Linked DNA regions of Homo sapiens: region 1 is linked to region 2. Evidence: fine-mapped expression QTL. A gene starts in region 2. The other region holds a variant in brackets. All regions are shown on one strand. Distances are from middle to middle.

Region 1 (15,763 bases), 91 kb before region 2:
GTATAGTGTTTGGTGTGTGCATGTATGTGTTCTGTGTGTGTGTGGTCTATATATATGGTGTTTGGTGTATGTTGTGTGTGTGGTGTGCATGGTGTTTGTGTGTGGTGTATGTATGTGGTGTGTGTGGTGTGTAGTGTGTGGTGTGTATGTGGTATGTGGTGTTTGGTATGTGGGGTGTGTATGTAGTGTTTGTATGTTGTGTGTATGTGTATGGTGTTGTGTGTAGTGTGTGATGTGTGTATGGTGTTTGGTGTATATGTTTGTGTGTGGTGTGTGTATGTTGTTTGATGTGTATGTAGTGTGTGTGTATGATGTGTAGTGTGTGGTGCGTATGTGTGAATGTGTGGTGTGTGTGTGTGTATGGTGTTTTGTGTGCATGGTGTTTGTGTGTATGGTGTGTAGCATGTGATGTGTATGTGGTATGTGGTGTTTGGTGTGTGTGGTGTGTGTAGTGTTTGGTATATATGTTGTGTGTGTGGTGTGTGTATGGTGTTTGGTGTATGTGGTGTGTGTGTGTGTGTGTGGTGTTTGGCATGTATGTTGTGTGTGTGGTTTGGTGTGTGTAGTGTGTAGTGTTTGGTGTATATGTTGTATGTGTTGTGTATGTGGTGTGTATAGTTTTGGTGTGTGTGTGGTGTGTGCATGGTGTTTGGTGTGTATGTTGTGTGTGTGGTGTGTGTAGTGTGTAGTGCATGGTGTGTATGTGGTGTGTGGTATGTATTGTGTGTGGTGTGTGGTGTGTGCACAGTGTTTGGTGTGTATATTGTGTGTGGTGTGTGTATGGTGGTGTGTGTAGTGTGGTTTGTGGTATGTATTGTGTGTGGTGTGTGGTGTGTAGTGTGTATGTTGTGTGTGGTATGTGTATGGTGTGTGGTGTGTGTAGTGTATGGTGTGTACGTGGTGTGTGGTGTGTGTGTTGTTTGATATGTATGCTGTGTGTGTGTATGTTTGTGGTGTGTGGTGTGTATGTGGTATGTGTGGTATGTGTAGTGTGTGGTGTGTGTGTGCTGTGTGTGTATGTTGGTGTGTGGTGTGTGTAGTATGTGGTGTGTATGTGGTGTGTGGTGTGTATAGGGTGTGGTGTGTGTGTTGTTTGGTATGTATGTCATGTGTGGTATGTGTATGGTGTTTGGTGTGTATAGTATGTGGTGTGTGTAGTGCTTGGTGTGTATGTTTGTGTGTGGTATGTGTGTATGGTGTTTCGTGTGTGTAGTGTGGTGTGTGGTGTGTGTATCGTGTTGTGTGTGTGTGGTGTGTATCCCCACAGTGGGGAGTGGGGGTAGCAGCCCCTGGCGGTGGGACATTCTGGCCTGCATTCTGGGCAGAGGATTCCAGAGGAAAACGGGCACAGGGGGATTCAGTAAGTTGCCCAAGGACACCCAGAGCGTGGGTGGACATGGAGCAGGGCCCTGGGCCCTCCCTGTCCCTCATGCCAGCAGGGAGGGTCTCTGGCACTTTACGGTGGGCGGTCAGGGTAGGGCGGAGGGGGCAGGGCAGCCTCCTGCAGAGATGATGCCAGTGTGCCTTCCACATGCCATGTCTTCCCCGCCACCATGCTTACTGGTCCTTCCAAGGATGAAAGAGTGAGCGGCCCACAGCATAAGTGTCTACCCCTGGGCCCCCGCTGCCAGGGGCGGCCCTTTCTGATGATAATCAGTGTTAGCTACAACAGTCCTGATGACCAGCGGTAGCAGCAGAAGGCGGGTGGGAGTGACGTGCCGATCTGCAAGTGTGGGGACCCCACAGGCTCCCCTGAGTCAGCGCTGGCGGAGGTCAGGGGGCAGGTGAGAGCTAGGGCCAGGATGGCAGCAGCAGAGTGTGTGCCTGGGGCTCACGCTGCGACCTCTGGGCAGTGTGCCTCAAAGGGGTCACTTGGAGGACTGGGCTGTTAGCTTCAGCTCACATAGGACCCCCTCTGGGCAGGTTCTGTCCTTGGGGCCCGTGAATGAAAGCTCCACTCCAGCCCAGTGGGCAGCTGTTTCTGGCACACCTACTGTGTACCAGGCTGTGTGCACAGACCAACATGGGGCGTGTCCTAGAGATCAAGGGGCTGGGGGATGTGGCACTCACGGTGGGGCTGGAGGCAGGGGGGTGTGGCACTCACGGTGGGGCTGGGGGTTGTGGCTGGCAAAGTGACTGACCCAGGCTTGTGGAGGGAGGAGCAGGAGCAGGCTGAGCAGAATTGGGGCCTCCCACAGGCCCTAACCCCAGGGCACAACGCAGGGTGCTGGAGCACGGCAGGCTTGGCTCGTTCATTGATTTAGTGCCTACTGTGTGCCGGGCACTGTGCTAGAGGCTGGCGGTGGCAGCAGGGAAAAAAACAAAGAGCCTGGCCCTCGTCGGGTGGGGGACACGGAAAAGAGACAACAGAGACCTGGAGCATAGACGCGTCCTCTGATCACTGGAAAGTGGAGGACGACGGCTGAAAAGCAGGGAGGGCAGGGGCTGGGGGTGCCTGTTGGGGTGCAATTCTAAATGAGGGGACTGGGGACTTGCTGTGAAGAGAACCAGAAAACAGGCCTGCAGTCCCCGCCTTGGTCCCTCAGGGACCCTAGGAGGCTGTATGGATGGGCAGTGTGGGTAGGTGGCGGGTGTGGGGGCTCCCACGGCTCCGAGGGAAATGCTCCTTCCAGCCTCGGGGGGACGGAGGTGCCTGGAGTCATCGCTGGACCGTCAGCCCCTTTTGCACAGGAGAGACATGTGGGAGACAGTGCAGGTGTGGAGGGGAAGGTGTCAGGGTGTTTGTACTGATGACTCCATGCACCCTGCCAGGAACGCCCAAGCCGCAGGTCACATGGAGGAAGGGCCCGTCCTCGGAGCCCCTGCATGGCCAGCCAGGTGTGGCAGTGCTGGAGGAGGGGTCTCTGTTCCTGGCCTCCGTCTCACCTGCGGATAGTGGAGACTACGAGTGCCAGGCCACCAACGAGGTGGGCTCCACGTCCAGGAGAGCCAAGCTGGTGGTCTATGGTGAGCAGGGACCCAGAGCTGGGGGCAAGAGAGGAAAGCGGCAGGGACCCAGAGACGGGCCTGTCTTCCTCCCAGGACCGCATCCGGCCAGAGGCCCACAGTGAAGCCGGGGGTCTGACAGTACCACGGCGTGCCCAGGTGTGGCAGTGCCAGTTCCCCGGGGCCTGAAAGCTTCCTACACAGGAGAATCAGGTCCTGCCACCAGGTGCCAGTGACAGGGAGGGCTTGAGGGGGCTGGGAGAGTGGCAGGTTGCACTGTACACCCCACTTCCCTAGAGAGACCCCCACGGAGACAGTATGGGGGAAGCACCTGGAATTCCATCAGTGTCTTTGAGATTGGTCTAGAGGTGAAGGCATTTTAAAATGACCCCTTGGCTGGGCATGGTGGCTTGCACCTGTAATCCTAGCACTTTGGGAGGCTGAGGCAGGAGAATTGCTTGAGCCCAGGAGATCGAGACCAGTTTGGGAGAGAGAGACCCTGTCTCTACATAAAATAAACTTAAAAAATTATTTTTAAAAATGAGCACGGATGGCAGTGCAGAGCCCCAGAGCCCACCTCCGGGTTAAAACTGTTACCCCTGGTCTCTTCTCACATTCTTGTCCTCAGCAGGGAGAGCGCCCACCCCCACATCCAGGGTGCTATGTGCAGAGGAAAGGAACCCCTCCTTAACACGGGCAGTGTGGGTGGGCTGGGGAGTGGTCTCTGTCGGCAGGATGAACTGGCCCCGCTTGGGCAGTTCTACCAGCTCCTAACGCCACCTGCTGCTTCCCCAGGACCAGCTGCTCTGGCTAGCCCTGTAATGACTTGCTCAAGACATTTGTTACAAAAGCGTGGCCAGGCCTCACCTTCAGAGATTCTCACTCAGGGGGACCCTCCCTGGTCACTGTGACACCAGGTTGGGTGTAGAACCAGATGGATCTAAGGGGACTCCAGCACCTTGCAAAGCTGAGAGTCAGAAAGGGTGACACCTGGGCCTGGGCACGACTGGGGGTGTGTGGGTCCCAGGGCAAGGCTGCTGCGGCCATCTGCAGGTCCACAGGACCCTTTGTGGCTGGGCGGACGGGGACAGGCAGACCTTCTCCAACCCCAGTGACGAAGGGGAGGGAATGGCCCAGATGAGGTCCCTTCGGCTGTGGCTCTAAGGGGGCAGGGAAGCAGCTCCTCGGCTCTCCTTGCCCCCAAGTGCCCCCCAGCATCCGGGAGGACGGGCGCAAGGCCAACGTGTCGGGTATGGCCGGGCAGTCCCTGACGCTGGAGTGTGACGCGAACGGCTTTCCAGTCCCTGAGATCGTGTGGCTGAAGGACGCGCAGCTGGTGGGTGTCCCCCTAGGGTGGGCGGGGTATGGGTGGGATTTAGGCTGGGGACAGGTCTTCTGGATGGGCATTTCTGCGTGTGCCAAGGTGGGGCAGGGAGATGTGACAGGTGTCTTTGGTGGTGCTCTGGGGTTCACGGCAGTGGAGGATAGTGGTCATGTAGTGAAGCCTGGCAGGGGCTGCGTGGCAGAGAGCATGGCACCGTTCTGGCCACTGGCCACCTCTCGGGCCTCAGTTTCCTCATTACTGATGCTGGGGGTGGTGGCTGGATCCCCTCTTACTGGCTCCCTCTGGCCTCTCCTACCCAGATTCCTAAGGTGGGCGGCCACCGCCTCCTGGACGAGGGCCAGTCCCTCCACTTCCCCAGGATCCAGGAGGGTGATTCTGGGCTCTACTCCTGCCGGGCAGAGAACCAGGCTGGCACCGCCCAGAGGGACTTCCATCTCCTTGTGCTCAGTGAGTGAGACCTGAGCCCTGTAACTCCCAAGTGTGTCTGGCCCTGTAGCCCCAACTCTTGCAGGCACACCGGGGGAGAGGGTAGACTTTGCCTGCGGAGAGCAGGGGGCACAGAGGGACCCATGACAGACCCAACCCCCATCCTCACAGAGCTATCAGGCTTGGGGGACAGACATCAGACAGGTGAATAGCAAAATCATTACTGTCACAAGTGCTACCAAAGAACAGTCTGGGTGCTGAGGGCTCCAGAGCAAGCCCTTCTGGCCAGGGTTTTGGGGGGCTTCCCAGGAAGGTCAGGTAGGAGGGGGGCCCAGGCTGGGGGGTCTGCACAGACAAAGGCCCCGTGGTAGGCGGGGCTTGCAGGGTTTGAACAGTTTCCCACCCCTCACGCCTTCTCACCCCCAGCCCCTCCTTCCGTGCTTGGAGCCGGGGCCGCTCAGGAGGTGCTAGGATTGGCCGGTGCAGACGTGGAGCTGCAGTGTTGGACCTCAGGGGTCCCCACGCCCCAGGTGGAGTGGACCAAGGACAGGCAGTGAGTGCCCCCCTCCCCGAGGATGGCGTGTGGTGGTGCCCAGACTCAGCCTGCTGGATGTGGGGGTTGGGGAAGGTTGAACTCTTCTTGGGGAGCTGACAGGCATGGCATGTGCCACCCAGGGCCCAGACTGAGGGCTGTAGGGGCGCCTCCCACCCAGCAGGAGATTAGCCAGGGAGACCCCACTCTTACCTCAGCAAAGTCTTCTCATCTCTTAGCCTTTCCTTTTTTTTTTTTTTTTTTTTTTTTTTGGTGACAGGGTCTTGCTCAGTTGCTCAGGTTAGAGTGCAGTGGAACGATCTCAGCTCACTGCAGCCTCAAACTCCTGGGCTTCTTGGGCTCAAGAGATCATCCCACTTCAGCCTCCTAAATAGCTGGGACCACAGGTGTGCGCTACCAACAACGGCTAATTTTTTAAAAAATGTTTGTACAGATGGGGTCCTGCTTTGTTGCCCAGGCTGGTCTTGAACACCTGGCTTCAAGCAATCCTCCTGCCTTGGCCTCCCAAAGTGCTGAGATTACAGGCATGAGCCACCGTGCCCAGCCTCTTTTTTTAAACTCACTTTTTCTCTAAGTAAAATTCACATAATGGGCTGGGTGTGGTGGCTCACGCCTGTAATCCCAGCATTTTGGGAGGCCAAGGCGGCCAGATCACCTGAGGTCAGGAGCTATCAGCCTGCCCAACACAGCGAGACCCTGTCTCTGCTAAAAATACAAAAAAATACAAAAAAAAAAAAAAAAGAAATAGCCAGGCATGGTGGCAGGCGCCTGTAATCCCAGCTGCTTGGGAGGCTGAGGCAAGAGAATCACTTGAACCTAGGAGGTGGAGGTTGCAGTGAGCTGAGATCAAGCCACTGCACTCCAGCCTGGGTGACAGAGCAAGACTCCGTCCAAAAAAAAGTCCACGTAACATACAATTAGCCATTTTAAAGTGTACAGTGGGCCAGGTGCAGTGGCTCACGCCTGTAATCCCAGCACTTTGGGAGGCTGAGGTGGGCAGATCACGAGGTCAGGAGATCGAGACCATCCTGGCTAACACGGTGAAACCTCGTCTCTACTAAAAATACAAAAATATATATATATATATACGGGCATGGTGGCGGTAGTCTGTAGTCTCCTGTAGTCTCCGCTACTTGGGAGGCCGAGGCAGGAGAATCACTTGAGCCCGGGAGGTGGAGGTTGCAGTGAGCCATCGTACTACTGCACTCCAGCCTGGGCAATAGAGCAAGACTCAGTCTCAAGGAAAAAAAAAGGTGTGCAGTGTAGTGGCATTTAGTACATTTGCAGCATGGGGCAACTTTCACTTCTATTTAGTTCCTGACATTCCATCACCCCAAAAGGACACCCTGGACCCATCAGCAGCCAGTCGCTGTCCCCTTCTCCCCAGCCCCTGGCAACCACAAGCCTGCTTTCCTTCTCTATGGACGTGCCTGTTCTGGGTACTTCACATCACTGGCATCATAGAGTGTGTGGCCTTTTGTGTCTGGCTTCTTCCACTCGGCATATTTTCCAGGTTCATCCATACTGTGGCAAGTGTCAGAATTGCCTTCATTTTTGTGGCTGAATAATGTTCCGTGGCATGGACGGACCACACGTTGTTGATCCATTCCTCGCTTACTGGGCCTTTGCATTGCTCCCACCTCTTGGCGCTAATGAATGGCCCAGCCTCGCTTTTTACAAGCCACACACTCCCTGTGTGCAGCGTGTCCCATCCAGCCCCTCGGCCTTACTGGCGCTTTTCCCTTGCCCGTCTCTCCAGGCCTGTCCTTCCGGGAGGCCCTCACCTGCAGGTCCAGGAGGATGGCCAGGTTCTCAGGATCACCGGCAGTCACGTGGGGGATGAGGGACGATACCAGTGCGTGGCCTTCAGCCCAGCTGGTCAGCAGGCCAGGGACTTCCAGCTCCGAGTTCATGGTGAGCCCCCACGCCTTCTGGGACCCCGCCACAGGCTACTCAGGAAGCTTCCCACCCAGCTGCCCGCTGCCTTAGAGGGAGAGTGAGGGCTGAAATGGGGGACCTGGTGAGTGATCCCTGAGTCCAAGAAAGCTGGGGGCTGGGGTCGGGGTTGGGGTCAGGGTCAGGGGATAGAGGTTATCTGGCCCAGCATTTTCCAAATCCGTGGTTTCCATCCCAGCTCTAAAAATTTACTACTTATGTTTTTTTTTTGAGATGAATTCTCTCTCTGTTGCCTAGGCTGGAGCGCAGTGGCACCATCTTGGCTCACTGCAACCTCCCCCTCCCAGATTCAAGTGATTCTCTTGCCTCAGCCTCCCGAGTAGCTGGGATTACAGGTGCCCACCACCACACCCAGTTCATTTTTGTATTTTTAGTAGAGGTGGGGTTTCACCATGTTGGCCAGGCTGGCCTTGAACTCCTGACCTCAAGTGATCCTCCTGCCTTGGCCTCCCAAAGTGCTGGGATTACAGGCGTGAGTCACTGTACCTGGCCCAAATTTACTACTTCTGATACCACTTGGAATTATGATTTACTTTTCTTTAAATGAGTCACACTTCCTTACACTGAAACACATTTATTTAAATATCCCTTATTCTTATAAAGGATATTTAATATC[G/A]AAACTGTAAGCAGAAAACCAGTTTCGCTTGGCTAAGGAAGCTGAAAAAACAAACACACCCCATAGAGCAATGTTGTAAATTCTCGAGGCGTGGACTCCGCAGAGGGCACCCAGCCTGCATCTGCACTCTCTGTGCTAAAAAGCGGAGAGTAGAAAGTGCTAGAAAGGTTAGGGACATGCATAGTAGCACCAAACGGAGCCTTTCCTTGCTGTAACCCGGATAGAAGGAGATTTGGGAGGGGCGTAACCATTCCATTCTGAGATGCAGTTATTTCATGCTGTGCCCATGTGCCCCTAGCATTGTCCTGGGTAGCATCGGTGGTGAGTGACCAGCCCTGTGTGAAGTCCTCATCTAGTCCAGCCTCTCATTTCACAGATGGGGAGACTGAGGCCCAGAGAGGGGAAGTGGCTCACCCCTGGTCTTCCAGTATGTTAGAGCAGAGCAGGGCCCAGAATCCAAGCCTGTGGCCCCGCCCCCACCTCCTGCACCTTCCACACCAGCATGTCCCCATGCTGGCCTCTCCCATCTGTCCCCAGACCCCTCCCCTCCTTGTCCACCATGCCTTCCCTGCCCCCGCAATGGAAGCCTGTGGTGTGTCTTGTGGCCCAAAGGCATGAGTCTGCTGCCCTGGGGAAGATGCCAGAGGCCTCAGCGGCTGCCTGTGACCAGCCCCACCTCTTTCCTTCTCAGCGCCCCCCACTATCTGGGGCTCCAACGAGACAGGCGAGGTGGCCGTCATGGAGGACCACCTAGTGCAGCTCCTGTGTGAGGCTCGAGGAGTGCCCACCCCAAACATCACCTGGTTCAAGGACGGGGCCCTGCTCCCCACCAGCACCAAGGTGGTCTACACTAGGGGCGGTCGGCAGTTGCAGCTGGGGAGGGCCCAGAGCTCCGATGCCGGCGTCTACACCTGCAAGGCCAGCAATGCTGTGGGGGCCGCAGAGAAGGCCACCAGGCTGGATGTTTATGGTGAGCAGCCAGGGGCCACGGCAGCCGGGGTGGGCAGTGGGAGGGACTCAGCCATGGTGGCCCCTGCCTGTCTCCAAAGGAAGGCTAGGTGGCCACTTGGAGTGGTCAGAGGCAAAAGGATAATGGGACCAAGACATTATCTAGGGAGAAGGGTCCTCCCAGCTTATGTGACTTCCCTCATACCTGTAAGGAAACTGAGGCCAGGAGTGGAAGGGCCTGTCTAGGAGGCCATGGCGGAGCTAAGTGTAGAATCCAGGTCTCCCCTCATGGTGTGGGGCTTTTCACTAAACCATGCCCAGAACCCTGTGACCACCACAATAATTAACTGCCCTCAGCTCATCACTTCTGTAAGCTAGACCAGAGGGGCACTTTGCAGCATCAGCTCATTTGATCAGCTGGCAAAGGGACTTGAGCTCTCATGTCCCCAGTTACAGATGGTCGCAGTGAAGCTCTGGAGCAGAGAGGTTTCCCCAGGTTCACACCCCTAGGAGGTGGTGGAACCCGGTCCTTACGCGGGCAGATCTGACTCCAGACCTCATGCTGTGAACCTCAGCATCAGCTCAGCCCTGAGGGGCTTGGCTCTGGGGACTTTTGAAGGAGAACTCAGAGGAAAGGGTGTCGGTGGCTCTGGATGGGTCTGAGCAGGGCCCCGGTGAAGTGTGAGAGGGCAGCGTGCAAGCTGATAGGGGTCAGCCTGGCCCCCCGTGGGGAGTCACTTTGGGAGCTCTGGCTTCCAAAGATGCAAAGGGCTTGGGTACTGGAACCTCAAAGGGCAGCTGAGCTGCATGGGCTCCACGGCAGCCTCTGAAGATGGCCCCGCCGCTAGCTCAGGGAGTCTTATTTTGGGACCCGAGGTCCCCCAGGAAATGAAATAGAAAATGTGTATGTGTATGTTTTCATTAAATTTTCAAAGCGTCTTACACCCAAATAAGGTTAAGAAGCATCTCCCAGGCCACGGTTGCCCCTTGTGCCCTGGTAATGGCTTCATCAGCTCAGCAACTTGAGGGTCTCCTTGAGGGTAGGAGAGAAATTTCCCCTTTGGCGTGGCCACCATGGGCTCCAAGCATAGTTAACATCTGGTCCCCTTGGCCATCGCTGGCTAAGTTAGGAGCCCCCCAATCCAAGCCATCTGGGCTCAGGTCTGCCCCAGTCTTCTGCCTCCTGAGACCAGGGAGGGAGGGGACTTCCAGGAGCAGAGCTCTGTCCCGGCCCTGGGGGTCTTATTTGAGTCCAGCAGACACTGGACCTGCTGTGTATAGGCACTGGGGATGCAAGTAGGCCGGCCGTCTTTCCACTCATGCTGGGCTTGCCGGGGTAGCAGCGGGGATGGAGAGGCAACAGTCAGCACCCAGGGGTGGGGTGGCGCGCCCAGGGGCTGAGGAGGGTGAGAATGCTGCCCCGGGGTCTGAGCAAGGGGTTCAGCCACTGGAGGTGAGGGAAGGAAGTGTTTCACATGGAGTGGGGTCGGTGAGGGGCTTCAGCGGGCCTGTTGGGCTGAGATGAGAGCAGGCTAGCGTCCAGCTGTGGTCCCCAAGCCGCCCCCTGCCTCTTTTCCAGTCCCACCTACCATCGAGGGCGCCGGTGGAAGACCATACGTGGTGAAGGCTGTGGCTGGGAGGCCTGTGGCGCTGGAGTGCGTGGCCAGAGGCCACCCGTCCCCCACCCTCTCCTGGCACCACGAGGGGCTGCCCGTGGCAGAGAGCAACGAGTCGCGGCTGGAGACAGACGGGAGTGTGCTGAGGCTGGAGAGCCCGGGGGAGGCATCCAGTGGCCTGTACAGCTGTGTGGCCAGCAGTCCTGCCGGGGAAGCCGTCCTGCAGTACTCCGTGGAGGTTCAGGGTGAGCCCGGCCCACCCCACTCAGAGCTGCCTGGGCTGTGGACGTCTGCCCAGGCCTGCTGCGTGCTTGTCCCGAGAGAGCTCCTGGAGTGGAGGGAGGGTGGGGAGAAGTAACCAGTGTCCCCACATTGCATGACACAGATGAGGACGCTGAGGCCTGGGCTGTGGGGCCGGCAGGGCTAGGAGTGGGCAGGGTGGAGCCCCAGGATCAAGGGTCCCTGACTGTGCCCAGGACCCTGGGCTGGGTCACCCAGGACAGAGGACCTCGTTCTGCCTTCTGCCAATGGAATGGCCCTTTACGGAGACTTTCCTAAGGCCGGCTTGTGGGTATGGTCCCAGCAGGGCGGGTGGGGCCTTCGCCTGCTCTTCCATCCATTGCTGAAGCATCTCAGGTCCTAGTGCTGTGTTGACCCCAAGCGGCACTGGAAATGAAGCTGGGAACAAGGCCAACCGGACTCCTGAGCCCTCAGTCTGCCAGGGAGGCAGATGTTAAATAATTAGGCCCAAGCCTTTGGGGAGCCCGGGGTGTCCCCTTACCCGCCTTGGGTGGCCCTGGAAGGCCTCCTGGAGGAAGGGCCACTGATAGGGAGACGTGAGGGTGAGGTGCAGCTGGGCCTCGCTTGGAAGGCTCTGGGGACTTGGGAGGGTTTGAGGCCAGTGGCTGCTCAGCTCCAAACACCCAGGAGTGTGTTCTGCCTGCAGTGCCCCCACAGCTCCTGGTGGCTGAAGGCTTGGGACAGGTGACCACCATCGTGGGACAGCCCCTGGAACTTCCCTGCCAGGCCTCAGGCTCCCCAGTACCCACTATCCAGTGAGTCTGGGGTGGTGGAGGCCAGGGCTGGGGGTAGGCAGAGAGCGTGTGCTTTGCGGATTGTGGGGGGAAGTGGACAGGAGAGAGGCTTCCTGTTTCCAGGAGTAGGAAAGAGGCCTGGAGCCACGGCTGGTGAGAGCAGGTGGGAGGAACTTCTAGGTTTCCTGCTTGTCCTGCCTGGCCTGGCCTTCCCTGGTCTCAGGTTGACACGCCCCCCTCCCTACTCACCTTAGGTGGCTGCAGAATGGCCGCCCAGCCGAGGAGCTGGCTGGGGTGCAGGTGGCCTCGCAGGGGACCACACTGCACATTGACCATGTGGAGCTGGACCACTCAGGCCTCTTCGCCTGCCAGGCCACCAATGAGGCGGGCACTGCCGGGGCCGAGGTGGAGGTGTCTGTGCATGGTGAGTGGGCGCCTGGGGTTCTGGAGCTGTGGGCAGCCTGAGATGCCAGGGGTGGGTGGAGCCTGGGCTGTGGCAGGCCTGGAAGGGCACGGGGCTGGTCTTTGCTGGATGGCGTTTCTGGGCTGGACTTCCCAGTTCCCCACAGAGACGCAGGTGTGAGAGGCTGGCCGGGCCACTTATCACACTTATCCTCAGTCCTGACCAGCCCCTAGGCCTCACTCCTCTCCCCAGCTTCCTCTCTGTCCATCTGCTGAACTTCACTTAGTTCTTTTAATATATCAACCCTCTTTCTCTTGTCTTCGTCTACGTTTGCTGTTCCTTCTGCCCAGAACTTTCTCCCTCCTCTTTGCCTGCCTAGCTCCTTATCTTTCAGGCATATCCTGAAATACTTTTCCTCCAGGAAGCCTTCCTTGATTCTACCATGTTTCTCATCTGCACTGCCCAGCCTCTCAATGCCTTAGCCCTCCAACAACTACATTGGGATTGCTTATTTGGTTGTCCATCTCCACTGTCCACCTCTGTGAGCTTTGAGAGGGCAACATGGTAGCTGCCTTTCCCTGACTGTGTCCAGGGGCCCAGTATAGTTCTGGCCACAGAGTAGATGCTCAGCACACATAAGGATGCATGGATAGATCAGTGGGTGGGTGGATGGATGGGTGGGTGGATGAATGGGTTGGTGGATGAATGAGTGGACAGATAGAAGGGTGGATGGATGGATGGATGGAAAGGTGGAGGGATGGGTAGATAGATGGAAGCATGGGTGGATAGAAGGGTGGATGAATGGGTGGACAGATAGAAGGGAGGATGGATGGATGGATGGATGGATGGATGGATGGATGGAAAGGTGGATGGATGGGTAGATAGATGGAAGCATGGGTGGATAGAAGGGTGGATGGATGGGTAAATGGATAGATGGGTAAATGGATGGATGGGTGGATGGATGGATGGAAGGGCGGGTAGATGGATGAATGGGTGGGTGGGTGGATGGATGGAAGGGTGGGTAGATGGATGAATGGGTGGGTGGGTGGATGGATGAATGAGTGGGTAGATGGATGCATGGGTGGGTGGGTGGATGGATGAGTGGATGAATGGGGGAGTGGATGGAAGAGTGGGTAGATGGATGGATGGGTGGATGGATGGATGGAGGGATGGATGGATGGATGGAAGGGTGAGTGGATGGATGAGTGGATTGATGGATGGGTGGGTGGATGGATGGAAGGGTGAGTGGGTGGATGGCTAGCTGGATGGATTGGTAGATGATGGATGGGTGGGTGGATGGATGGAAGGATGGATAGACAGAAGGATAGGTAGATGAATAAATGCATGAATAGATGCATGGGTGCACAGATGGTTGGGAGAATTTTTAAAGAGAATAACTTCTCTGCTGGCTCCCAGTCTAGAGCTCTTTCCCCTAAGCCATGCGTCTAGGGGATATGGTGGGCAGAAGCTAGATGCTAGCCTTTGGCCAGCCCTTCAAGGGCACCTTCTCACCCCCAGGCATCGAGGGGGTTGCTGGGTGCCCACTGTACTCCTCCTGATTCTGACTCGGGCTCTTCCTGACTCTTTCCCTTCCCAGAGTTCCCATCGGTCAGTATCATTGGGGGTGAGAACATCACAGCTCCTTTCCTGCAGCCTGTGACCCTCCAGTGCATAGGGGATGGGGTGCCCACCCCAAGCCTCCGTTGGTGGAAGGATGGTGTAGCCCTGGCAGCCTTTGGGGGGAACCTACAGGTATGTGCAGGGGCCCCAGGGCTGGCAAGCCAGCTGGGCACAGGTGGAGGGGCTGCTCTGGGGGCTTCCTGGAGACTCTGAGCAAATCCCAGCAGGCTGGGCATAGGAAGGGCCCAGAGCCCTCTCAGCCTGAAAGGGTGAGCCTCAGCCTCTTCCGGGTCCTAGGAGCTTCAGTTGTCAGAGGGAGAAAATGTCAGTGGGGGGGACAGGGAATGGTATGCCTGGAGATCGGACGAATCCCTGGAATCCAAGTGCTTGGCTCATAACTCTACCTCCAGAGCCAAAAGTGTCCCCATGCCTCACTGCTCCTGCCCCCGGGCTCGGCAGCAGCCTGGCCACTCGCCATGTCCCGTCATCACTTGGACAGCCCTGTGGCATACTCTCTGCCCCCTCCCCTCCAGATTGAGAAGGTGGACCTGAGGGACGAGGGCATCTACACTTGTGCTGCTACCAACCTGGCTGGGGAGAGCAAGAGGGAAGTGGCGCTGAAAGTTTTGGGTGAGGACGTGGGTAACCAGCAGGGCCCAGGCCAGCATGTTGGGTGATCCCTTGGGGACCCTTGGGGCTGAAGTGTGTGGCGAGGGAGGGGGAGGAGGTTTTTCAGTCATAGTTGTGCACTTAACTTCAGAGGAAGTAGAAAGCCCTGAAATGAAAGTGTTAGCAATAGCTGTGTAGTCCCTTTTGGCGGGATTTTTTTTTTTTTGAGATGGAGTCTCGCTCTGTCGCCCAGGCTGGAGTGCAGTGGCACTATCTCGGCTCACCGCAAGCTCCGCCTGCCGGGTTCACGCCATTCTCCTGCCTCAGCCTCCCGAGCAGCTGGGGCTACAGGCACCCACCACCACGTCTGGCTAATTTTTTTGTATTTTTAGTAGCGACGGGGTTTCACCGTGTTGGCCAGGATGGTCTCGATCTCCTGACCTCGTGATCCGCCCGCCTCGGCCTCCCAAAGTGCTGGGATCACAGGCGTGAGCCACGGTGGGATTTTTAGTGGAAGACCTTGCCCACATTCATATTTACGTTTGCTTATTTTGGGGGTTTATTTGCAGGGAAATCCTCGTCCTTGTCCCTTCCCCTGGCTGTGCTGGCGTCGGCTGTCCTGGGGTGGGGGCTGGGTGCTGTATGATTGCCGTAAGGATGGCAGCCTGTTGCTCTTTGTTCTTGGGCTTGCTTCCAGGAGTGAGGTTGCTTAGTCTGAGGACATGAGCTGTTTTAGAGCCCTTAGTCTAGGATTTTCTATGGGGAGCAGGGAGCAGCACTGCTGGGATGGCTGGGATTAGAGCTGCCCAGAGCTTGCACCTACCAAGCTGGGTCTCTCCTTGTCTCCCCCTAGTGCCCCCCAACATCGAGCCAGGCCCAGTCAACAAGGCAGTGCTGGAAAATGCCTCAGTGACCTTGGAGTGTCTGGCTTCGGGCGTGCCCCCTCCTGGTAAGACCCCTCCTCTTGGCTGAAAGCTACTTCCAGCCCAATTTACTGTCTAATGAGGCTGGCGAGTGACCCAGGGACTCTCTGATTGGACATAATGGGGAGAAATCATCAGGTCTTTCCCCCCCGTTTCTCTCATGTTCCTCTCTTCCTCTTCAACAATGTCCTTCGGGCCAAGGCCATGTTAGGGTCCAGAGCCAGTGTGAAACAGGCCTGCAGGACATCTACTCACAGTAAGCTTCACAGGGCTGTCCGGGGCTAGGGGCGAGGATCAGGACCTCAGAGTCACCATCTGGTCTGTAGGGTCCTCCCCTCTAGACCAGAAGTGGAGGAAAGGGCCGGGAGCTGGGGGCTGGGTGTGGGTGTTTGCATAGGGGACTGGGTGAGGCTTACGGTGGCCCAGGAGGAAGGCCTCTCTCCTGCTCCCATCTGAACTAGGCCCACCCTGCTTTGCTTGTTGCCTGTGAGCCCTGGGGATATTTGCCCCCTCTCGTGGGGATGCCTGCTGAGTTCCGGGGACATGTCCCGGCAGGATGCAGGGAAGCTGCAGATACACGCGGTCCAGCCTGGCTTTGAGGCTGCTGCTTTGGGCTGGTCCATGTTCTCTAATGCCCCCTAGGGGACGGGGTCTTCTGGTAGGGGGAGGGCAGGGCTGAGTTTGACTCTCTCTGCTCCTGGCTGCCTCAGCCTCTGCCCACGGGGCTTCTTCTCCACCCTTGGTCCTGTCTTGGGCAACATTGCCCGG
Region 2 (15,763 bases):
GGGCTTCTTTATGGCTTGCTTGTCATCTTGTATCCTTTGCAGCTCACCCCTGGCTTTCACTTGCAGTCCTCTTCTGAGCTATCTTTTTCCTGATAGCATCTCCCCTTCTGGGGGATGGATTATTGAAGGCAAGGGCCATTTCTAGGCCCTGGCCTTAATAATTCATCTAATTCATCTACAGGAAGGGCCTTTGTTGGACGAATGGATGGATGGAAGTGTAGTGCAACAATTCCTAAGTAGTCTTTTTTTTTTTTTTTTTTGAGACAGAGTCTGGCCCTGTCGCCCAGGCTGGAGTGCAGTGGCGCGATCTTGGCTCACTTTAAGCTCCACCTCCCGGGTTCACACCATTCTCCTGCCTCAGCCTCCCGAGTAGCTAGTATTACAGGCATGCACCACCATGCCCAGCTAATTTTGTATTTTTAGTAGAAACAGGGTTTCTCCATGTTGATCAGGCTGGTCTCGAACTGCTGACCTCAGGTGATTCACCCACCTCAGCATCCCAAAGTGCTGGGATTACAGGCGTGAGCCACCGCGCCTGGCCTAATTTTTGTATTTTCAGTAGAGACGGGGTTTCACCATGTTGGCCAGGCTGGTCTCAAACTCCTGACCTCAAGTGATTCACTCGCCTCAGCCTCCCAAAGTGCTGGAATTACAGATGTGAGCCGCTGTGCCCGGCCCCTGGGATAGTTTTAATAGGCGGTCAGGGCAGGAGAAGAGGGGACAGCAAGTGTCAGGGCCCTCAGGCAGGAGGGTCCAGCCAGGAGGTTGGGGAGGCTGGAGATGAATGAGGTGGGAGAAAGGGAAGACAGAAAGGTCAAGGGGGTGGGGTGGATCCTGTGAGGTCTTTGGGCCACCACAGGGACTTTGGCTTTGATGAGTGACCTATACAAGAGCACATGTATAGGTAGGTGTGGTGGTGCATGCCTGTAGTACCGCTACCTGGGAAGCTGAGGAGGGAAGACCCTTGAGCCCAGGAGTTTGGGGCTACAGTGAGCTATGATTTGGCCACTGCACTCCAGCCTGGGTGAGAGAGCGAGACCCCATCTCTAACGAAAATGGTTTTTAAGAAAGTCAATGCATATCTGCGTGTTGGCCTATCTCCAGTGTGCTGGGTCTCGGGAGGAGTGTAGGTGAAACGGAGCTTGGCTGTTTATCCTTCTCCTCCCATTCCTGCCCTTCTCCCTGGGCTGGCAGCAGCCCCTGCCTGGTGGCCTCTTTGTTGCCAGCTGCCCCTGACACAGCCTCTGGGAGAGAGAGGTTGTCTTTTGCATATGGTTCTGAAGAAAAGAGTGCCTCTCTCCCTGTTCCTCCTACTTAGTGTGACATGGTCAGCTCCCCCTAATTGTCCCCTCCCTCTCATCTGGGCAATGAGGAAAGTTGTCTGAGTTAGTTCCTTCTAGAGATGAACGACAATCAGGCTGTCTTAACAGAGCTGTTCTGGGTACACAGAGAAAAAATCGCTGTGTCCATTTTACAGATGCAGAAAGGGGGGTACAGGGAGGGAACATGATCCAGTCACTTGACTGAGGTGTGACTGGTTAATGGTCAAACTGGGACTCTTGATTCCCACCTAACAGCCCCAGTAGAACCTTCTCCAGGATGCTTCTTACTGTAGGTTTCCTTCAAACCAGTCTGCAAAGTTTTTCTGTTAGGGGCCAGATAGTACTTTCTGCTTTGCGGGACATTCAAGCTCTGTCAAAATGACTTACCTTTGCCATTGCAGCGCAAAAGCAGCCCCGGAGGACCCATGAACAGATGGGCACAGCTGTGTTCCAATAAAACTTTATTTGTGGACACTTACATTTCAAATTTATTATCATTTTCATGTGCCATGAAATATTCTTCTTTTGATGTTTTTCAACCATTTACAAATGTAAAAGCCATTCTTAGTTTGCACGCAGGCTTTACAAAAACAAGTTCAGACCAGAGTTTGCTGATCTCTGGTTTAAACCACAGAAATTACTGATGATGGAAGTCCAGGCTGGGTGGAGAGATTAGAGGAGGCGGGAAGAAGTGCGGGAGGGGCTTCCCAGGCCCTCCTGTACCCTATTCGTCCAGGGTCCACCTGTGAGGGCCTTCCTTGGGCCGAACGCCCCTCTTTGTGCAACGCCAGGGGTCAACGGGTCAGAACTGGAGCACTGCTCTTCGCTAGGCTGTTAATTTTTTATGGAGCTGGGGACTTTGTGGAGGTGATGCAGAGGCGGAGACCCACAGAGGGGAGGTGCCACTCCTCTCTCACCCCTGCTGTCTCCTGCAGGCCGCTCCCAGTCTCACGCAGGCCTTCCATGTTTGTGAAACTACTACTTGTTAAGTCTTTGTCCAGTGTCTTACAGACTTGAGGTTTTTTTTTTTTTTTTTTTTTTTGAGACAGAGTCTCACTGTGTCGCCCAGGCTGGAGTGCAGTGGCGCGATCTCGGCTCACTGTAAGCTCCGCCTCCTGTGTTCATGCCATTCTCCTGCCTCAGCCTCCAGAGTAGCTGGGACTACAGGCATCCGCCACCAACCACGCCCAGCTAATTTTTTTTTTTTTTTTTGTAGAGATGGGGTTTCACCGTGTTAGCCAGGATGGTCTCGATCTCCTGACTTCGTGATCCGCCTGTCTCATCCTCCCAAAGTGCTGGGATTACAGGCGTGAGCCACCGTGCCCGGCAACTTGGGTTTACTTAGTCCTTCCAGGAGCTCCAGAGCCAAGAAACAGCATCCCCATTTCACAAATGAGAGAAGGAGAGCTCAGAGAAGGAAGCCACTTATCTATCTCACACAGCCTGGAGGGGAAGAGAAGGACTCAGCCCAGGTCCATCTGACTCCAGAGTCCTGGGCTCTGACCACCAGGCTCCCCTGCCTCCACTTTCCAAGGAAGGGGGAAGAGAGAGAGGGCCAGGGGCAGGCTGAAGACAAGGGCCCTTGGCAATTCAAGATGTGAGGAGCTAAAAAGGGAGTGTCTATTCAGCCCCCTGCCTCCCCACTTTTCCCTCCTTTTCCATTTGAGGCTATGGAGCGGAGGCCGGGGGAAAGGAGTGACTTACCCAAGGTCACACAGAAAGCCCAAGGCAGACCAGGCCTTGGAGGTAGATTCTGACCCAGTCCCTTCCTCCCCTACACTCCAACTGCTTACCCCGCCCCTAAGGAAGGTTACCAAGCAGAGGAGGCCCCTCCCAAGCAAGCCACAGCCAGAGCCAGAGAGTATTTTCCATCCAAAAAGGGTGTTTGCCACTTCTTTTTCTCTAGCTGCCAGCTGTCATTGGCCAAGACTCTGTCCAAGCTGCCCAGCCCCCTGGTGCCACCTGACCTCTGCGAGTCTGTTTGCACCATCAGGGGTGGAAAACAGGCCTGCAGGTCAGGCATTGAACTCCCTGATGTGGGTTTTCCACGAACCCAACAACTGGACTCTGTGTTCCTGTGGGCGAGGACTGGCAACCTAGGGTCTGGCCTGGAGGACACTCTCTTTTCCCAGGGCCAATGCCCAGGCTTGGGCAGTGGCAAAGTGGCTTCTGGTGCCAACCACAAGGAGGTTTCAGGGTGAGATCCTTGAAGTCTCTACACACCCAGGCCCCTTCATGCCCAGCAGGTCCAGAGCCCTTGGGTGGCAGAGGCGAGAAACGGAGGCAGGAGGAAGCCCACTCCAGGGCTCTGTACACAGGCTGTATCTATGCCTTTAGGTGGCTGGGGGCATTCGATGAGGTCACATCCATTAAGCTTGCCCTGTAGCCACTCAGACAAGTGGCCACCAAAGTTAGAGCTGAGGCCAGGCGCGGTGGCTCACGCCTGTAATCTCAGCACTTTGGGAGGCCGAGGTGGGCGGATCATCTGAGGTTGAGTTCGAGACCAGCCTGGCCAACATGGTGAAACCCCGTCTCTATTAAAAATACAAAAATTAGCCAGGTGCGGTGGTGGGCGCTTGTAATCCTAGCTATTCTGGAGGCTGAGGTAGAATAATTGCTTGAACCCAGGAGGCAGAGATTGCAGTGAGCCGAGATTGTGCCACTGCACTCCAGCCTGGGCGACAGAGCGAGACTTATCTCAAAAAAAGAAAAGGTCAGAGCTGACTCTTAGAAAAGCCCCCAGCTGCAATGTGGAGCATGGAGCAGAGGGGATGGTGAGCACAGGCAGGAGGATAGGTGAGGTGTCTCCTGCAGAGGTGCATGTGAGAGGTCACAGTCATCCAGGCTAAGATAAGAGCAGTGGGGAGAGACAGCAGGAACCAGAGCGCTCACATTCTTCCATTTTCTTGCTGGAGGCCTCAGCCCTCTGCTCTGTGCCAGTATCAGAGCTTATGACAAGCAACTGATCTGGTGGGGGAGGGAAAGGATAAGAGGCATCACTAAGGAGCAGTGTGTGGAAAGACCACATGGCAAAAAGGGCTTGACACGTTGAAACAACCACAGCCAGGCCGGCAGCAGCAGTATAGTGGGTAAGGGCAGAGGAGGAAGTACAGCCATTGAGATTTGAACCTAAGAGTCATGGGGACCATCAAAACCTTGCTTCAGAAACCATTTTATTCATTAATATTGCAGTACATAGCTCTAAAACTTTATAAATCTTTCAATAAAAATATAACTACAAGCTGGGTGCAGTGGATCATGCCTGTAATCCCAGCACTTTGGGAGGTCGAGGTAGGCAGATTGCTTGAGGCCAAGAGTTCAAGACCACCCTGGGCAACATGATGAAACCCATCTCTACTAAAAATACAAAAATTAGCCAGGTGTGGTGGCATGTGCCTGTAGTGCCAGATACTAAGGAGGCTGAGGTGGGAGGATCACTTGAGCCCGGGAGGTGGAGCTGCAGTGAGCCAAGATCGTGCCACTGCACTCCAGCCTGGGAGACAGAGGAGACCTTGTCTCAAAAAAGAAAAATAACTACAATATCATTATTATTACACCTAAAAAATCAATAGTAATTCTGTCTTGCTGTTATTGAATATCTCATCAGTGTTCAAACTTCCAACTGCTTATAAAAATATTTCTTGCTGGGCGCGGGGGTTCACGCCTGTAATCCTAGCACTTTAGGAAGGCAAGGCAGGCGGATCACGAGGTCAGGAGATCGAGACCATCCTGGCTAACACAGTGAAACCCTGTCTCTACTAAAAATACAAAAAATTAGCCGGGCATGGTAGCGGGCGCCTGTAGTCCCAGCTACTCGGGAGGCTGAGGCAGGAGAATGGCATGAACCCGGGAGGCGGGGCTTATAGTGAGCCGAGACCACGCCGCTGCATTCCAGCCTGGGCGACAGAGCGAGACTCCGTCTCAAAAAAATAAAATAAAATAAAAATAAAAATAAAAATAAAAATATTTCTTTTGCACTTAAAAGAAATCAGTATCTAAATGAGATCTAAACATTGTGATTTATTTTATTTTATTTTTGAGACAGAGCACGTTTTGTGCCCAGGTTGGAGTGTGCAGTGGTGCAATCTTGGCTCACTGCAATCTCTGTCTTGGCTCACTGCAACCTCTGCTTCCCAGGTTCAAGCAATTCTTGTGCCTCAACCACCTGAGTAGGTGGGATTACAGGTATACGCCATGACACCTGGCTAAGTTTTTGTATTTTGACTAGAGACAGGGTTTCACTATGTTGCTCAGGCTGGTCTCAGAGTCCTGGCCTCAGCAATCTGCCCATCTCAGCCTCCCAAAGTGGTGGGATTACAGGCATAAGCCACCACACCCAGCCTTGATTTTATCTTTTATAGCTCTTTTAACCCAAAGATTCCCCTTCTGTTTCTTTTTTTTCTTAAAAATCAATTTGAGATATAATTTTTTCCAGGAATGCAAGGTTGGTTCAACACCTGAAAGCCAATCAATGTAACACACCACATTTATAAAATAAAGGAGAAAATCATATGATCATTTCAATAGGTGTAGAAATAGCATTTGACAAAATTTAGTACCTATTTATGTAAAAATCTTTCAATAAATAAGGAAGAAAAGTGAACTTCTTCTGACCAAAAAAAAAAAAAAAAAAACTATGAAAAACCTACAGCTAACATTGTACTTAACGGTGAAAGACTGAATGAATCCTCTGCCCTAAGATCATGAACAGGGAAAGGATAACTACTCTTACCAATTCTATTCAACATTCTACTGGGGATACTGACCATTGCAATAAGGCAAGCAAAAAAGGTACAAAGGTAATAAAGGGGAAAGTAAAACTGTTTCTATTCATAGACAACATTGCTGTCTACCTAGAAAATCCTAAGGTATTTACAAAAATCTACTAGAGTCAATAAGTGAATTTAAAAAAAGTTGCAGAATATAAACCTAATTTACAAAAGTTGATTTTATATGCCAGGAACAATTGGAAAATAAAAATATCATGTATGATAACATCAAAAAATTAAAATTCTTAGAAGTAAATTTGATGGAAGATAGGCAAAACTTATACACATAAAACATTGCTCAGACATCTAAACCAGGATGGATCTCTTGGTACCTCCACTGAAATTGAAGACTTACCCTGATTTGATGATTACACATTGTATACACGGATCAAAACATCACATGTACCCCCAAAATATGTATAACTAAGATATATCAGTGAAAAATACAAAAAAAAAAAAAAGAAAGAAAAGAAACTGAGGACTTTTATACCACCTATCAAAGATGTCTCAACCTACCAGGTCTTCCTCTCCACTGTATGGAAGACTTAGGCCTTTGCCTGGGCACAGGCCTCCACCAGGCCAGTCATCCAAGGTGTCCAATAAATTAGTCATCTCAGAGCTGGGCCCTGGAGTACCCATACCTGTGACCCCAAGAAACTATCTCTTAAACAAACAAACAAACAGAACCTCTCTGGCTGTTGGGGAGGAAATGTTGGAGGGGCAACTAGGGTAAGTGGAGGAGCCAGCAAAGAGACTTAAGTAAGAAATTATAATGGTCTCAGTAAGAGAAGATGGTGGCCCTGTATGGAGGAAGTGGAAGTGGAGAGAAAGGGGCAGACTTGATATATTTAGAAGATATGAATGTTGTTGGGCACGGTGGCTCACACCTGTAATCCCAGCATTTTGGGAGGCGGAGGTGGGTTGATCACCTGAGGTCAGGAGTTCAAGACCAGCCTGGCCAACATGGTGAAAACCCGTCTCTACTTAAAATACAAAAATTAGCCTGGTGTGGTGGCGGGCCTGTAGTCCCAGCTATTCAGGAGGCTGAGGCAGGAGTATTGCTTGAACCGGGGAGGCAGAGGCTGCAGTGAGGGTGCCACTGTACTCCAGCCTGGGTGACAGAGCAAGACTCCAAATTAAAAAAAAAAAAAAAAAAAAGGAAGGTATGAGTGTCTCAGATCCCAGTGCCTTTGTTTCTCCACCTGCTCAGGCCTAGGTGCTGCTTTGTTTTTAGGAATGCCACCAAGATCACTTACCTAGAAGGTGCAAAGGCTCCTGGAGGACCCCTGACCTAGGTGTGGGCAGGGGGTAAGATGAAAGTCAAAGGCCATGGTGCCCCAGTCTCAGGTGGGGGAATCCCTTTGGGCCACGCCCCACTTTGGCCCTCAGCACTGCTCTGCAGGGTAAGGGCCAGGGCAGGGTTGAAGGTCCCCCTGGCCGATGGAGGGGTCCAGGCAGAATGGGGCTCATTCAGAAGCTGGCCAGTCCTCCCTCACCTTGGTCTCTGCCTCTGGGCAACCACTCACCCTGCTGTTGGTGGCAGGACGGTGGGGGTGGGGGGCGGGGTGCTGCTGGCAGTTTGGGCCCCTGTTTTCTTCTCAGGAGCGCTGTGACCTCACTGTCCCTCATGTCACTGGTGCATGTGAGTTAGGAAGGGTCTGTCCCCTAGGCTGGAACCATTTCTGCGGCAAGGAGTAAAGGTCCCAGCAGCCTGTGACCCTGGGACTGTGACCTCAGTTCAGCTCAGGCTGGAGCTAAAGCAGAGGGTTTGAGCCAGAGCTTCAGACACTGGATTCTAGCTCCGCTCTGCCACTCACATGCTGTGTGGCCTTGGGAAAGATACACCGTCATTCTGTGCAGCAGGTTTCTGCCCATACCATTGAGATAACAATCACAGGTACTTCATACAGGGTAGTCGTGAAGGTGAAAACAGAATGCTTGCTCTTTCCAGGGCGACCCTACCAATGAGAAAACAGGCTGCAGTGGGGAGTGACCGCCCCAAGGACACACAACTGCTGCAAGGGTGTCATTGTGTAGGTGTTCCTCACTTGCCTCCTGCTAGTGTGGGAGGCCCAGAGACTCCACGAGACCCCCAGCTGCTCCTGTGAGAGGGCTGAGGGGGGCCAGCTGTGATACCGCCTCCCATCTAGAAGGGGCCTCAAGCCACCCATGTACACCCAGCCCCACGTGGCTCACCAGGGGCCCCTTTGCCATCAAGGGCCACATCCCAGGTTTAAGTGTCAGAGAACTAAGGGGCTTAAGAGAGAATCGAGCTGTGGCTTTGTTTGTGAATTGGTTTGATCCTTTTTTCCTTCTAGAAGGACTCACAGCTACTGTTGCTTGCCATGGGCTTGAGGGGGTGGTGGGGGCTGACTGGCAGAGGGGCTGAGAGTGGATGGTGATTAAAAGGAGCACTGACTCCAGGGTAGCGGCTGGGCAAGGCTTGGGGCTCCCACCTCCCCCAGGTTCAGAGCCGGCTGAGGACCGGGAGTCCTCCCTTCTGGGGTCAGTGCTCACTATGGAGCAACTGCCTTGGATGGGGTCCCAGGACTTGCTCTTTTACTGGGGCTGTGGTTGCAGTGATCAGGGCTTTGGAGCCGGCAGACCAAGCTGGGAAACTCCTGAGGTAGAGAAGCTGTTGAAGGCGGGCCTGGGGTCACAACTCCCAGCTGCTTTTTACAAGCAAGAGACTTCTCTCTGAACCTCAACCTTCCCTCCTGTCTAGTGGGTTCGCAGCCAGACAGTCTTTTACTCACTGCTTACTGGGTGCCCTCTGGAGTCTGGGCAGGTGCCAGGCTCTGAGAAGACAGGCCAGCAATCAGCCCTGGCCTAAGGGATGAAAGCCGGGCCTTCCCGCGCCGGCTCACCTCGGTTTTCTCATCCTTACTCGGCTACCAGAGGCTATGGTTGGGGAGGGAGGGGGCTCTGGGGGCTGCAGAAGGCCCAGGCTGCCGGCACCGGATAGAAGTGAGCACGAAGCTCCCTGCGCCAGTGGAACTTTTATCCCGGCTCCCACCGCGAAGCGTTTAAATTGCTTCCCCAGGGCCAGGAGGCAAGTCTCTCGAAGGACGGCTGCGGCCACCCTCCGCCCCTGAGTTACATGGGTCGCAGCCACTGCCGCCCTCCTTGGCGCCTCCAGCCCGCGGGCCAGGGCCAGGAACCGCGAGCCGCCTGCGCCCCCGCCGGCGCGCCCCTGGGAGGGTGAGCCGGCGCCGGGCCCAGGCCCGGACCTGGTGGGAGGCGGGGGGAGGTGGGGACGAGGCCTGGGGAGGCGGGCCCCGCCCATCTGCAGGTGGCTGTGAACGCTGAGCGGCTCCAGGCGGGGGCCGGGCCCGGGGGCGGGGTCTGTGGCGCGCGTCCCCGCCACGTGTCCCCGGTCACCGGCCCTGCCCCCGGGCCCTGTGCTTATAACCTGGGATGGGCACCCCTGCCAGTCCTGCTCTGCCGCCTGCCACCGCTGCCCGAGCCCGGTAAGGAGCCCTCGGCCCCTCTCGCTGCCCACTCCCTAGCCGAGAGCACCCGCTTCCCGGGCCCAGAGGAGGAGGCGTAGAAGACGCCCGCCCCGGGGCCCGCGGAGGCAGAGGGCGGACCCCGATCGCCACTCGCCGGGGACTGGGACCGAGGCAGGAGGGAAGGGGCTCCCGATGCTCAAACGCCTGGCACCGGATTCCAGGTTTCTGGAGCGTGGGGGACGCGGCGGGGGCGCGAGTCCCCGGGGGCGCGAGTCCCCGGGTCCGAAGAGCGGCTCGGGTTATTTGTTCCCTGCGCAGCCGGGTCCTTTCTGGACTCCTTGTCGGATCCGGCTTCCTCTGTGTCGTGAAGCCCCCACATGGAGACCTGGGGAGTCCGGAGCGTGTGGGGGGGCTCCCGATTCTCTCTCCCTCTCTCGGACTCGCCGTCTGTCTCCACCTCTATTTCTCTGCGTAAAACCAGGAGTCCAGCCCCTCTGGGGCTTGGACGTATCGCTTTCCCCGCAGCCTCAGTTTACCCTGGACAGATGGGCATGGTGGCCCTGGCTCCCTTCCCTGCAGGGGGCGGCAGCCACCTGGCCCTCCCCGGTGGGGCTGGCGGCCTCGCGGCGGGGTTTCCTGCTGGCCTGGGCTGGGCTCTGTGGGAGGGGCAGTGCCAGGAATATTTTCTATTCGGGCTGCTGTTGCCTTTGGCCCCTGGGCGGCTGCGCCCTCCAGGGAGGCAGGGTCATTGTGAAAGAGAGGAAACTCCTCTCCCAGGCGGCCAGGGCTGTTCCTGAGGAGGGCTGGCCTGGCCTCAGTATTCTTCTCTGAGAAGTGGAGAGTCCACTCCCGAGCAGCCGAGTCAGGCTGCAGGTCTCAGGGCAGGAACAGACCTGTTCTCTCCCCAGGGGTAGATCAAGACCTAGGGGACTTGGGCTTTGATCCTCCCGCTCCCAGCAAGCACAAACCCAGTGATGGGGAGAGCTGGTGAGGCCTTGGCTCAGCCTCCAGATTCCCAAGCTTCCTTTTCATTTTCTTTTCTTTCTAAAAATTTATCAGAGATGTGGACTCGTCATGTTGCCCAGGCTGGCCTCGAGCTCCTGGGCTCAAGCGACCCTCCTCCCTCGGGCCTCCTAAACTGCTAGGATTACAGGCTCGAGCCACCCAAAGTGCCTGGCCCCCAAGCTTCAGTCTGTTAGAGCTGGCTGGGGCTGAGGGCTCAGGAAACATTTGCAGATACTGTGCGGCTGCTAAGGGCTCTGTAGACTGTTGGGTGCTGGGCCTGGGTCCAATTGCACAATAACTGTGCCTGGGGTTAGGTTCTGATGAGAGGGAGGGAGAAGCAGCCACACGGACTGGGAAGCTTGGCTAGGAGCAGGAACTGGAGGAGTCTCCATTCCAAACTCCCTCTCCCTCCCAGACCCCTTAGGCCCAAGGCCTAGGGCGGGGAAGTTTGGGGGTGGGGGCGGGACCCTGTCCTGGCGGGGCCATCTGTGCACCATGCTGAGAAGTAATTCTGGTTCTGCTCTGTGGGGGTGGATCAAGTGAATGAATAGTGACTCCTGCCTGCTGAGCGCCTGGCCGGTGCGGGGGCAGACACGTCGTGAGAGGGAAGGGGAGGCCCCACTCTCAGCACAGTCTCCATTCCTGAGTGCTTGGGAAGCAGGCCCAGGGCCGCAGGAGCCTTGGGGTGGAGCCAGGCCCAAAACAGCCTGCTGCACAAGCGCTTCCCCCTCCCAACCCGGGCCCATCTCATCTTTGGCCTGCTGGGAGGCCAGCCAGGTCAACCAGATGCCTCATCTGAGCACTGACTACACAGTCCCTGAAGTCAGTGGCTTGCCTGTGGGCACCAGGCACCCATGTGGAAAGAGGTAACTTCGCTGGAATTCAGAGTCTAAGGCTCTGATTTCTGATGTAGCTTTGGGCAAAGTTGATCTTCCAGGGCGTGGCTCCCTCCCCAGACTTGGGGTCGACCAGGCACCCATAGGCACTTTGATATGAGTGGAACGAATGAATGAATGTGCCCTTCGTCCATCACCAAAGACAAACCGAGCTCAGCTGAGTTAGAATGTCAGCGAGGGGTTGCAGGGGAATCTTCCACGGGGCAGTAGGCCTGAGCTATAGCACACAGGCTCTCCAGAGAAATAGTGGGCAGGTTGGCCATGACTCACTGGGGGGCTGGTTTTCTGGAAGGTGTGTAGAGTGAAGGGGAGATCTGAGGTCTCCTAGGAGCCAGGGAGTGGAAGGCCTAGTGCAGGGAAGAGCAAGTGGCCTGCAGTCAGGCTGGGTTTGAAGCCGCTAGCTTGTGACCTCGGCTGGCCGCTTAGCCTCTGCCTCCTCCTTTGTAAATAGGTGGTAATGGCAGTCTCCACCTTGAGAGGATGCACCTGTGACTGTGAACATAGTAGCCGCTCTTGTTGTCATTCCAGCTCTGACGTTTTCAAGTAGCACGAGTTTTCCTTAGTGTCAAGTGAGCGCCCAGGCTGGCCTGTTTGCTGGAAGCTGGACAGATGGCTGTGGCTGGGGCCACAGAGAATGCCATCCCAATGAAAGCCAGGTGGCTCTGGTACCTTGACGCGAGGCCACCTTCCCTCCTCCCAGGTGTCTCTTCCGGGGAAGGAGGGCTGGAGGGCAGTGGGCATTTGCCAGGGAGCTGGAGAAACCTGCCGTGGCCCTTTCTGGGGGATGTGGTGGGGGTGGAGCTGGGACTAGGGGAGGCTGAATTCAGCCAGGATCTGCCTGCCAGGCGCAGCTCCCAGGAAGAAAGCCCAATGTCTGGGAGGGTCAGAACCCAGAGGGCTGTCAGGTTGTACAGATGAGGAAATTGAGGCTTAGCAAGCCAGGAACTTGGCTGAGGTCAGCCATAGCAGCGGTGCACAGAGCTTAGTGGGCACATACATGCTTGGTGCCCAGCTCTGGGCTCCTTCCCCCAGCATCTCACCCAATCCTTACAGTCGCCCTGTGGGGAGCAGGCTGTTTGCACCCCTATTTTGCAGCTGAGCAGTTATGCTAGAGAGCTGAAGCCACTCAAACCCATGTCTGGTGGACTTGACCTCTGTCCTGTGCCTGGAGTGAGCGCTCACTGGATTGCAGCTGTGGTTCCTTCTCTCCCTGTCACTTCCTCCCCCGACATCAAACCCTCAGTTTCATTTAGTTTTTGCCTCGGGCTGCAAATGCAGCTTAGGGACCTGCGGAGGCTGAGGGAGGGGGGTGCCCCACCCGCTGCTGGGAGGGCAGGAGCAACGCTGCTGTCTGATTGCATCATTTTCCCAAGCCCATCTGCCCAGCTCATTTCTCTGCATGCATACACTGGCCCCAACACCCACACACGTGTGCATGCACACAGGCACACATGTGCAAGCCCAAACACATCACACACATGCATGCACACACATTGTGTACTCTCAGGTACGCACCCCTGGGTGCACACAGGTGTGTGCGCGCGCACACACACACACACACACACACTGTCTCAGGTACACACGCCAGGTCCATGCATTGCTTCACACTGCCCAGCCCCAGAGGCTGAAGGCCTCAGAGCCCACACCTGCCCAGCTACAACCTGGCAGGCAGGAGGGGCTCACTGGTTTCTTTTGGTTTATTTAAGACAGAGTTTCACTCTGTCACCCAGGCTGGAGTGTGGTGGCACGATCTTGGCTCACTGCAACCTTTACCTCCCAGGTTCAAGCGATTCTCGTGCCTCAGCCTCCCAAGTAGCTGGGACTACAGGTGTGTGCCGCCACACTCAGCTAATTTTTGTATTTTTAGTAGAGACGGGGTTTTGCCACGTTGGCCAGGCTGGTCTGGAACTCCTGACCTCAAGTGATCCACCCACCTCGGCCGTCCAAAGTGCTGGGATTACAGGCATGAACCACTGTGCTCGGCCATGAGAGCATGTGTAGGACTCCACAGCTTCAGGGCACCCCAGCCCTCTTTTTGCGGTGAGGAGCTGACCTCCAGAGAGTGGAACTAGTAGCATTGTTCTAAGTGCCTGCCACAGGCATCTGGGAGATGGTCCCTGTTTCCATGGAGCTCATAGTGGGGGAGAGGGCAGTTAGAATACAGCATGATGGCCGGATGTAGTGGCCCATGCCTGGAATCCCAGCACTTTGAGAGGCTGAGGCAGGCAGATCGCTTAAGTCCAGGAGTTCGAGTCCAGCCTGGGCAATGTAGTGAAACCCCATCTCTACAAAAAATACAAAAATTAGGCAGGTGTGGTGGCATGTGCCTGTAGTCCCAGCTACTTGGGGGTGGTGGCACTGAGCTGGGATGGGAGGATCCCTTGAGCCCAAGAGGTGGAGGCTGTGGTGAGCTGAGATTGCATCACTGCACTCCAGCCTAGGTGACAGAATGAGACCCTGTCTGAAAAAAAAAAAAAAAAAAAAAGGATACAGCTCTGATGGGCAGGAGGCATGGCGGGTCACTGAGGCGATGCAGGTGATCCAGCTGTTTCTGTGGAGCTGCCCCTCCGTGTTTCTGTGGAGCTGCCTCTCTTGGCTCCAGGTGCCTCTGGGAGGAGGCAGGAGCAGGGGTGACTCTCAGAGCTGGGTGAATCTTGGGCCAGCATCATCAGATCACACTTGCCCAGGACTTCCCTTCCTTGAGTCTCCAGTGGTGGTCTTGTACCTATGAGCAGGGGGTTAAGGAGCCGAGCTGATCTGAGTTGGAGTCCTGGCTCTGCTGCCTACCAGTCAAACGAGATGCAGGGCAAGTTCCTCAGCCCAAGCCTCAGTTTTCCTGACTCTAAAATGAAGAGAACCCCAGATGGAAGGGCTTAGCCTAAGACGGACATGTCTATTCCCTTGATTGTGGTGTTGATGTCACGGGCGCATCCGCACGCCGAAACTTGCTAAATTGGACACAAAAAAATATGCGATTATTTTTGTAGTTGATGAATGTGCTGATTGGGTATTCTCGTGTGTGTGTGAGGTGCCACCCTCAAACTTTGTTATGATGTTGGCACATTACCCATCTGATATTTAAAAAATGCAATTTATGATATGTCAAGTAGACCTCAATAGAGCTGTTTTAAAACATACAACAGAATTTCCCGCAACCCAACCACACCACCCGCGCCATCACACGCAAACAGGGGTAGGCTTCCACATATTTCCTGAATGCCTTCTGGAGCAGGGGGCAGGAGGCAGGAGGCAGGACAGGTGGCTCTGGGGCTCCTGGACCTCCTCTGCTCAGTGAGGCTGCTCACAGGAGATTGGGCGGCTGGAAAGTAAGGTTTAGGGCCTCTGGGATGGCCCAGGCTACCTGCAGGCAGCTGAGTAGCTCTGCTTTTGCAGAGTGGTTCACTGCACTGTGAAAACAGATTCCAGACGCCGGGAACTCACGCCTCCAATCCCAGGTACTGCCCACCTTAAGTCCTCCCTGCCTGCCTTCCTCCCTCCTTCCCTCCATCCTGCATGGCCAATTGCCTGGCTGCAGTTGCCATGGATACCACCTGCTGGCTCCAGGGTTAGGGCTGGCTGAGTCACCAGCAACTCAGGGGCAGGGGGTTGAATGCCCAGTAGGGACGTTGTGGGCACCGACCAGAACCATCTTCTCTGCCCCAGCTGCATGGTCCATGAGGTGTTTCCCCTTCTAAGTCCAAAGGGCAGCACAGGCCTGTGAGCCCCGGCTGACTGGCAGGTGGGACCGTGCAGCATGCACGGGACTGAATTCTCATGTGACGGAGCTCCAAAGTCCACCTGGCTACACGGCCAGGCTCTGCAGCAGAGGACGGGAGGCCTGGGAAAGGCACTTCCTCTCCCCGAGCTTCCAGGCACACAGAGAGTGCTCAGGATAGCGATGCCTGCATCACTGCAATGGTGATGGCCGGGTGACCCTTCTGGGCTCCACTTCCCCAGTAGTGTCTAATAAAGACCCTGGGTGACTCTGACCTTGTGACGTTGGTCAGACTCCAGTGGAAACGTTCCCAGGCAGAACAAACATGCCCTGTACATTTGGGAAATGCGGGATGCTGGGGCCAGGTGTCCACGGAGGCTGGAACCAGGAGGCCTGGGCCCACATCTGCCCCTGCTGCTTGTTGATCCGATGACCCTGGGCAGGTGACCTCGTCTCCCTAACCCTGGTTTCCTGTTCAGCAAATTGGACACAGTGAAGACGCCCAAGCCCAGGGCCACAGGAGGCATGTGGGGGAGGGGGGTGCAGGGCGAGCCCAAGGGCAGCCCAGGATTCAGGGAGAGCCCTCGGGGAAGAAGCATGGCTG

Evidence for each region. PIP is the estimated chance that this variant, and not a neighbour inherited with it, causes the effect.
Region 1: its variant is fine-mapped to the expression of ASS1 in esophagus mucosa (GTEx, PIP above 0.99).

The regions. Positions count from the first base shown.
Region 1 is chr9:130,344,394-130,360,156 of GRCh38, forward strand. HMCN2 (hemicentin 2) reads left to right here. Exons shown (of 98, transcript NM_001291815.2): 26 at 2,773-2,967; 27 at 4,152-4,282; 28 at 4,591-4,738; 29 at 5,144-5,270; 30 at 7,030-7,184; 31 at 8,534-8,812; 32 at 10,370-10,651; 33 at 11,353-11,461; 34 at 11,695-11,864; 35 at 13,441-13,595; 36 at 13,997-14,093; 37 at 14,926-15,021. Among named protein-coding and RNA genes, the nearest start is that of HMCN2, 87 kb to the left of the region's middle. RefSeq lists an enhancer at 14,491-15,262. The variant G/A (reference allele first, on the strand shown) is at 7,843.
Region 2 is chr9:130,435,435-130,451,197 of GRCh38, forward strand. It overlaps ASS1 (argininosuccinate synthase 1), which reads left to right and starts at 9,527. Exons shown (of 15, transcript NM_054012.4): 1 at 9,527-9,561. LOC124902349 (small nucleolar RNA U13) reads left to right here and starts at 14,422; the gene lies at 14,422-14,521. RefSeq lists a silencer at 9,330-9,449 and enhancers at 10,330-10,997, 11,667-12,334.